2 separate regions of the Homo sapiens genome follow, and region 2 is reported to be linked to region 1. Evidence: microRNA targets listed by miRTarBase, many of them from high-throughput screens and not tested one by one. Region 1 holds a microRNA gene; the other region holds the end of a gene's coding sequence.

Region 1 (4,000 bases):
AACAGTATTATTAATAATTTTGGTCCTTGGGCCGGGCGCGGTGGCTCATGCCTGTAATCCCAGCAATTTGGGAGGCCGAGTCGGGCGGATCACCCGAGGTCGGGAGTTCGAGACCAGCCTGACCAACATGGAGAAACCCCGTCTCTACTAAAAATACAAACTTAGCCGGGCGTGGTGGCACATGCCTGTAATCCCAGCTACTCGGGAGGCTGAGGCAGGAGAATCGCTTGAACCCGGGAGGCGGAGGTTGAGGTAACCGAGTTCGCGCCTTTGCACTCTAGCCTGGGCAACAAGAGCGAAACTCCGTCTCAAAAAAAAAATTTTTTTTTTAATAATAATTTTGGTCCTATGTAAGGTATTATTAATACACAGATTTTCATTTTTCGCCTAATTATCCTGAACCAGTTAAAGTGAACACTTGGAAGGGGGTAGGGGGAATATCGATAGCCATGGCAGTGGTTTTCAAACTTTATCAGAATTACCCGCTGGTTAAAATTCAGATAACTCGCTTCACTCCAAAGTTTCTGATTCTGCAGGTTTGGGGTAGGGCCCGAGAATTTGTCATTTTAACAGTATCTCCGGTGTTGCTGATGCCGCTGGTCCCAGAACCACACACTGCGAACAACTGGCCTAGAACGTTGTCATTCCTTTCTCCTACAGATTTTGAGGCAGCCGGTGGGCTCCGAAACAAAACAGAGGTCACTGGATCCGATTCCCAGTACCATAGAAGTGACTCAAACCAGCGATTCAACCGACAAGCAGGATCCGGGCCACCCAAAGCCGCGCGAGAGTTTACGTGACGACATCGGCGTCAGCGTCACGGAGGCGTCGGCCACGTTCAGCGGACACGGGAGCAAGATGGCGATTCCGGGCAGGCAGTGAGTGATCCGGGAGTTAGGGTCAGGCTGGGGGATGAGAAACTACGGCGACTGTATCTTTGGCCGAGGAGTTTTAAATGCGCTGGAAGTGAAGGGACTGTGTCGTCAAGGGTAGAGACGGGAAAAAACGAGAAGTCCTGAGGAACATAGATTCCCCTCCCCCGTACATTTTCCCGGATGGAAGCCCGAAGTTTGAGGGAGAAACTTGTGAGGAAATAAAGGAAGTTAGGCTGAGGGGCAGAGAGCGAGACTTTTCTATTTTCCAAAAGCTCGGTCTGAGGCCCCTCAGTCTTGCTTCCTAACCCGCGCTTGAGTTTCTCCCCGCTTGGATGCTCTCAGGGGCAGTGTGAAGAGAGACAGTTCCTGGCTTCCTTAGAGGGCCTTGTTCTCCTTGGCAGAAGCTCAAGTCCTGATTCCCGCCCTTCCTTCTCGTTTTAGGAATATTGTTCTGAGAAGCCACAGAAAAAGGGTAGGCATATAGGAAATTGGGGTATACGTTGCCGCAAAAGAGACAAATACTGTACGTACTTGAAAGTTTTACCTTTGATGTGTAATCCTTACTTTTGATGCGGCCTCCCGTGATCTCCGCATCTTAAAGGCCAAAACGTGAGAAACTAAAGGAGTTGGATCTGATGGGATGGTTCTCTCAGATGCTCCGAGGCAAAGCACATGATCTTAATAAAGTGTAATGCGAACTTGCCCCATGGCTACTTGGGTTTCTCAGTTATCTTTTAAAAATTTTCGTGAGTTACACTATCCAGTCAGTTCTTAGAAACTGTGTAAGTACACAGTAGGAAAAAAAATCTAGCCATTTTCTTGACTGTTTAGACCACAAGGATAGTTGAAAGCATTTTAAAATCTTTAGTGGACATGAACTAAACTTTCCACTACACATGTTTTTTTTTTTTTTTTTTAAATGTTACTGTCACTTCGCCATCTTAAAACATTTCTGAACTTTTCATTTACTTCTCTTCTTTGATAAAAATGGTATTCGAGTTTGGCCCGTGTCCACAAATGATCACTTAGAGTAGTAATTATAGAATCTTACGGCATGTTAGAATTTTGAGATCACTGAGAAGCAAAAACAGTCTGTTACGTGTTCATAAAGCTTATGACATGTTTTGATTTGGTAGCTTCATGTGGAAGAGGTAGTAGATGTATTTGTTAACATTTAAACATAAAGGTTTAATTTCTATTTCAAAAAAAATATATGCAGGTATGGGCTTATTTTGCCAAAGAAAACACAGCAGTTGCACCCTGTTTTGCAAAAACCATCAGTGTTTGGGAATGATTCTGATGATGATGATGAGGTAAGGAAACCTATGTTTTACTCGTGCATGGTTGGAAATGTAAATTTTTTAAAAATTGAACTTGTGACTCTGATACCTTTGCCTTTGTTATTTGTCAGTACAGTGGAGTATAATTTACAGAATTGTCAAAAAGGAAGGTGTAAAGAAAGCAGCTCCACCGATTTTTTAAAGATTTTTTTCCCTCTAAAAGCTGCAAACTTTACCTTTAAACAAATACACGGTCTTTTCAGACTACTGAAATTGTCATAACAAAATTGTTGGTGTAAAGATCCCTAGGTATGAGTTATTAAGATGTCACCAATTTTCTACAAATTTTTATTAGCAAAGCAGTTTTTAATTTGTTAACCATGAGCTAAGATCACTATATAACAGTTCTTAACAACGCTACTTTTTTTTTAAATTCAGTGTCTGCCAAATGTAATTGCTCAGTTATAATCGTGGTAGTGAATAGTTACTCTTGATAGTACTACAGTAACATCTAATATCAACATTTTCTATTTTAGCAGCCAAAACTACTTCTGTGAAACCCACAGTTATATATCAGAAACAATCCCAAATGTGTGCTTTTCTTTTCTCTTTTTTTTTTTTTTTTTGAAACAGTGTCTTGCTCAGTTGCCCAGGCTGGAGTGCAATGCCGCGATCTCGGCTCACTGCAACCTCCGCCTCCTGGGTTCAAGCGATTCTCTTGCCTAATCTTCCTGAGTAGCTGGGATTACAGGCACCTGCCATCATGACCAGCTAATTTTTGTATTTTTGTAGAGACAGGGTCTCACCATGTTGGCCGGGCTAGTCTTGAACTCCTGACCTCAGGTGATCTGCCTGCCTCAGCTTCCCAAAGTGCTGGGATTACAGGCGTAAGCCACCGCACCCAGTAAATATGTGCTTTTCCAATACTCCCATCATGTTTTAATATTTTTTTTTCTTTTTTTTTTTGAGACAGAGTTTCGCTCTTGTTACCTAGGCTAGAGTGGGATGGTGCAGTCTTGGCTCACTGCAACCCCTGCCTCCCAGGTTCAAGTGATTCTCCTGCTTCAATCTCCTGAGTAGCTGGGGTTACAGGTGCCTGCCACCATGCCTGGCTAATTTTTATTTTTTTATTTTTTTGTATTTTTAGTATTTTTAATATTTTTTGTATTTAGTAGATTTTCCTGCCTCAGCCTCCTGAGTAGCTGGGATTACAGGTGCCCCACCACCACGCCCAGCTAATTTTTATATTTTTAGGAGAGACGGGGTTTCACCATGTTGGCCAGGCTGGTCTTGAACCTAACCTCAGGTGATCCACTTGCCTTGGCCTCCCAAAGTGTTGGGATTACAGGCATGAGTCACCATGCCCAGCCTCTTTTTTTTGAGATGGAGTCTCCCTCTTTCGCCCAGGCTGGAGTGCAGTGGTGCGATCTCAGCTCATTGCAACCTCCGCCTCCTGGGTTCAAGCGTTTCTCCTGCCTCAGCCTGCTGAGTAGCAGGGATTACAGGAACACACCACCACGCCTGGCTAATTCTTGTGTTTTTAGTAGAGGTGGGATTTCACCATGTTGATCAGGCTGGTCTCGAACTCCTGACCTCAGATGATCCACCCACCTTGGCCTCCCAAAGTGCTGGAATTACAGGCATGACCCACTGTGCCTGACCGGTTTTCAGTTTTTATTATATAATAGCATGGGTGGATAATTTAACATATTTGATATTTCTTTGCTACTTTTGAAGACATTGGCTCTTTATGGCTCACAGTTTTTAAAAATTGAGGTATAATTTACATATAAAATGCTCAGATTTTAAGTGTACAGCTTGATGATTTTTGACAAATGTATATGC
Region 2 (4,181 bases), not on the chromosome of region 1:
GTTTTATATAATATATAATATATATTATATATAATTATATAACTATATAACTATATAATATATATTATATATTATCTTATATATTAGATAATAAATAAGATAATATATATTAGATAATATATTAGATAATATATAAGATATATATTAGATAATATAATATATTATCATATATATAATATAATACAATATAATATATTATATATTATATAATATATAATATAATATAATATAATATAATATATATTATATTATATTATATAACATATATATTATTATATAATATAATATATTATATATTATTATATTATATATTATTATATAACATATAATATATTATATAATATATAATAATATATAATATATATTATATTATTAATATTATATATTATATAATATAATATATATAATATAATATATATGTTATATATATTATATATAATTAATATATAATAATATATAATATAATATAATATATAATATATTATATATTATATATTTATTATTTATATATCAAATATATTTTTATATATTTGATATATAAATATATATTTATTTATTATTTATATATAAATATATATAATATATAATATATAATTATATTATATATAATTATATATATGATTATATATAATATATAATATATGTTATATATTATATAGTTATATATAACTATATATAATCTATAGTATATAATATATATATTATATATAGTATATAATATAGATTATATATATAATATATAATATAATCTATATTATATATTATATATATTTATATGTATATATTATATATATTTATATGTATATATTATATATATTTATATATTATATATATTTATATGTATATATTATATATATATTTATATATTATATATATATATTTATATATTGTTGCGGGAAGTCAGGGACCCCAAACGGAGGGACCGGCTGAAGCCATGACACAAGAATGTGGATTGTGAAGATTTTATGGACATTTATTAGTTCCCCAAATTAATACTTTTTTAATCTTATGCCTGTCTTTACTGCAATCTCTAAACATAAATTGTAAAGATTTCATGGACACTTATCACTTCCCCCATCAATACCCTTGTGATTTCCTATGCTTGTCTTTACTTTAATCTCTTAATCTTGTCAGTCGAGGAGGATGTATTTCGCCTCAGGGCTATGTGATAATTGCATTAACTGCACAAATTGTACAGCGTGTGTGTTTGAGCAATATGAAATCTGAGCACTTTGAAAAAAGAACAGGATAACAGCAATTGTTCAGGGAATAAGAGAGGTAACCTTAAACTCTGACCACCGGTGAGCCGGGCAGAACAGAGCCATATTTGTCTTCTTTCAAAAGCAAATGGGAGAAATATCGCTGAATTCTTTTTCTCAGCATGGAACATCCCTGAGAAAGAGAATGCGCACCTGGGTGTAGGTCTCTGAACTGCCCCCCCCACTGGGGCGTACCTGTCTCTTATGGTCAAGGCTGCAGAGATAAATAAACTCCAGTCTCCCATAGCGCTCCCAGGCTTATTAGGAAGAGGAAATTCCCGCCTAATAAATTTTGGTCAGACCGGTTGATCTCAAAACCCTGTCTCCTGATAAGATGTTATCAATGACAATGGTGCCTGAAACTTCATTAGCAATTTTAATTTCGCCTCCGTCCTGTGGTCCTGTGATCTCACCCTGCCTCCACTTGCCTTGCGATATTCTATTACCCTGTTAATTACTTGATGTCTGTCACCCACACCTATTTGCACACTCCCTCCCCTTTTGAAAATCCCTAATAAAAACTTGCTGGTTTTTGTGGCTTGTGGGGCATCACGGATCCTACCAATGTGTGATGTCTCCCCCGGACACCCAGTGTTAAAATTTCTCTCTTTTGTACTCTGTCCCTTTATTTCTCAAGCCAGCTGACGCTTAGGAAAAATAGAAAAGAATCTACGTGATTATCAGGGCAGGTCCCCCAATAATATATTATATGTATTTAGTATATATATATATATATATTTTTTTTTTTTTTTTTTTTCTTTAGAGGCAGTCTCGCTCTGTCGCCCAGGCTGGAGTGCAGTGGCGCAATCTTGGCTCACTGCAACCTCCACCTCCCGGGTTGATGCCTTTCTCCTGCCTCAGCCTCCCGAGTAGCTGGGACCACAGGTGCCCGCCACCACACCCGGCTAATTTTCTGTATTTTTAGTAGAGATGAAGTTTCACCGTGTTAGCTAGGATGGTCTCGATCTCCTGACCTTGTGACCTGCCCGCCTCTGCCTCCCAAAGTACTGGGATTACAGGCATGAGCTACTGTGCCTGGCCCACCGTAAGTGTGTGTGTGTGTGTGTGTGTGTACATATATATATATATATATATATATATATATATATATATATATATGTAATATATATGGCTGGGCACGGTGGCTCACGCCTGTAATCCCAGCACTTTGGGAGGCTGAGGTAGGGGGATCACTTGAGATCAGGAGTTCGAGACCAGCCTGGCCAACATGGTGAAACCCCATCTCTACTAAAAATACAAAATACTAAACATACGAAAATAGCCTCATTTATAACACAAACCCCCAATATATTATGTTACCCATGTCTCACCATGATTTCAAACACCTTTCAGATTTATTTTCAGTTCCTGATTTCTACCACTCAGACTGGGCTGGAGGAACTCTAAGAAACAGACTTCCTGCTGACCCTCCTGCGCCGACTTCTAGGCATGTCTTTGGTCCAAATGTGGGCTCCTCTTCCTCCCTCATGCAAATGAACTCTTAAAGATTAGTCCACCAAGTCTTCTAGAGAGGTCTACACAAGTCTGAATTTTAAGGTAAAAGTGGCTGAGATTTAAGTTGAGAGTCAGTGTGGCAGATTCCTGGCTCTTAAAGGTTTTTACTTTGAAGAAGATAAAATGCACGAATCCTACTAGGGCAGAAAGAGTTCACAATAGATGTTTTGGTGACAAAGCACTTGTTCTACATAGCCCAAGGGTAAATGCCAATACCTATTCAGAATGGAGCAGGGAAATTGAAAATAAATTTGAACCCTTCTAATGTAAAGCTTCTGTTTCATATCCTGGCTCTTAGCAGCTGAGTGACCTTGGGCAAGTAATATAACATTTCTGAGCCTTTATTTTCTCACCCTAAAATGGAGATAACATCAATATTGTCTCCATCACTCCGAAACCCCCTTACAGTTTGGTAAGAATTACATGAGATAAAATATGTAACTAGCACAGTACTAGCACAAAATAAGGAGTCAGTTAATATTAGTTCTTCTTCCTCCACCAGCTCAGCTCCTTTGCTCTTCCTTATCCAGGAAATACAGAAATATATGGATTCACTGTAGAAGCTGGACCCAGCTCTTCAGATGCAGCAGATGGATTGACCCACTCTGTAATGACCCAGGATGGGGCGGGTGTTCTTCTGCATGGTGACTGAGAATGTGAGCCTCAGAATGAAATGTAAGAACACCAGGCTGCAAGAGGACTGGCTGCAGCCACAAACTGCAGGTCACTGTTCACAGGTGCTCAGTAGGAAGAGAGAGAGGCTTGTGATTTTTTTTTCACCCAGATGGAAATATGCATTCATAAAATGATTTGAGCTGGGCGTGATGGCAGGCGTCTGTAATCCCAGCTACTTGGAACACTAAAGCCGGAGAAGTCCTAGAACCTGGCTGCTGATGGGTTCATTGAGCCGAGACCGTGCCATCTTAACCCAGCCTAGGGGAAAAGAACAAGACTTCATCTCAAAAAAAAAATATATATATATATATATCTACATATATGTATATCTACATATCTATATCTATATCTATATCTACATATATATCTATATATATCTAGATATATATATACTTACAGAGGTAATCTTCATATCTCTCCTTTGCCTGCAATAGGAGAAAGGAAAACGCCATGAGGATCGGATCATGCTGGGCCCTGTTGGCACAGGTCTATTATTCACTTGGTGACGTAGAAAACAACATGTCAAACAGTGATCAAGTCACTGGCCCCCCGAATGAAGCATAGACGATGTGTGTGGAAAAGGCAATGGGTTTTCATGGAATATTTAGTAAGTCCATGTTGGCTGGCAAACACAAAATTATTTTTCAAGAAGAAAAAGTTGCTACTGAGAAATATGCTCACTACCAGATAGTTTGTAAGTGATGCGCTCATTTTTGACTACTGTCATCCAGC

What was found. The annotated mature microRNA hsa-miR-423-3p reads AGCUCGGUCUGAGGCCCCUCAGU and lies in region 1 at 1,146-1,168, shown strand. An mRNA with a match to its seed (bases 2 to 7 or 8) in the 3' UTR can be bound and repressed. Matches are read on the target gene's strand: a 7mer-m8 pairs with bases 2 to 8, a 7mer-A1 pairs with bases 2 to 7 and ends in A, and an 8mer does both.
Region 2: the mRNA of C22orf42 is a reported target of hsa-miR-423-3p. The part of its 3' UTR that is shown has no 7-base or 8-base seed match.

The regions. Positions count from the first base shown.
Region 1 is chr17:30,115,986-30,119,985 of GRCh38, forward strand. MIR423 (microRNA 423) reads left to right here and starts at 1,094; the gene lies at 1,094-1,187. It overlaps NSRP1 (nuclear speckle splicing regulatory protein 1), which reads left to right and starts at 831. Exons shown (of 7, transcript NM_032141.4): 1 at 831-878; 2 at 2,095-2,188. The coding sequence starts at 859. MIR3184 (microRNA 3184) reads right to left here and starts at 1,175; the gene lies at 1,101-1,175. RefSeq lists enhancers at 342-1,541, 574-693, 714-813, 844-943 and silencers at 656-1,257, 1,194-1,263.
Region 2 is chr22:32,145,907-32,150,087 of GRCh38, forward strand. C22orf42 (chromosome 22 open reading frame 42) reads right to left here. Exons shown (of 9, transcript NM_001010859.3): 8 at 3,847-3,874; 9 at 3,100-3,707. The coding sequence ends at 3,634. Among named protein-coding and RNA genes, the nearest start is that of C22orf42, 11 kb to the right of the region's middle.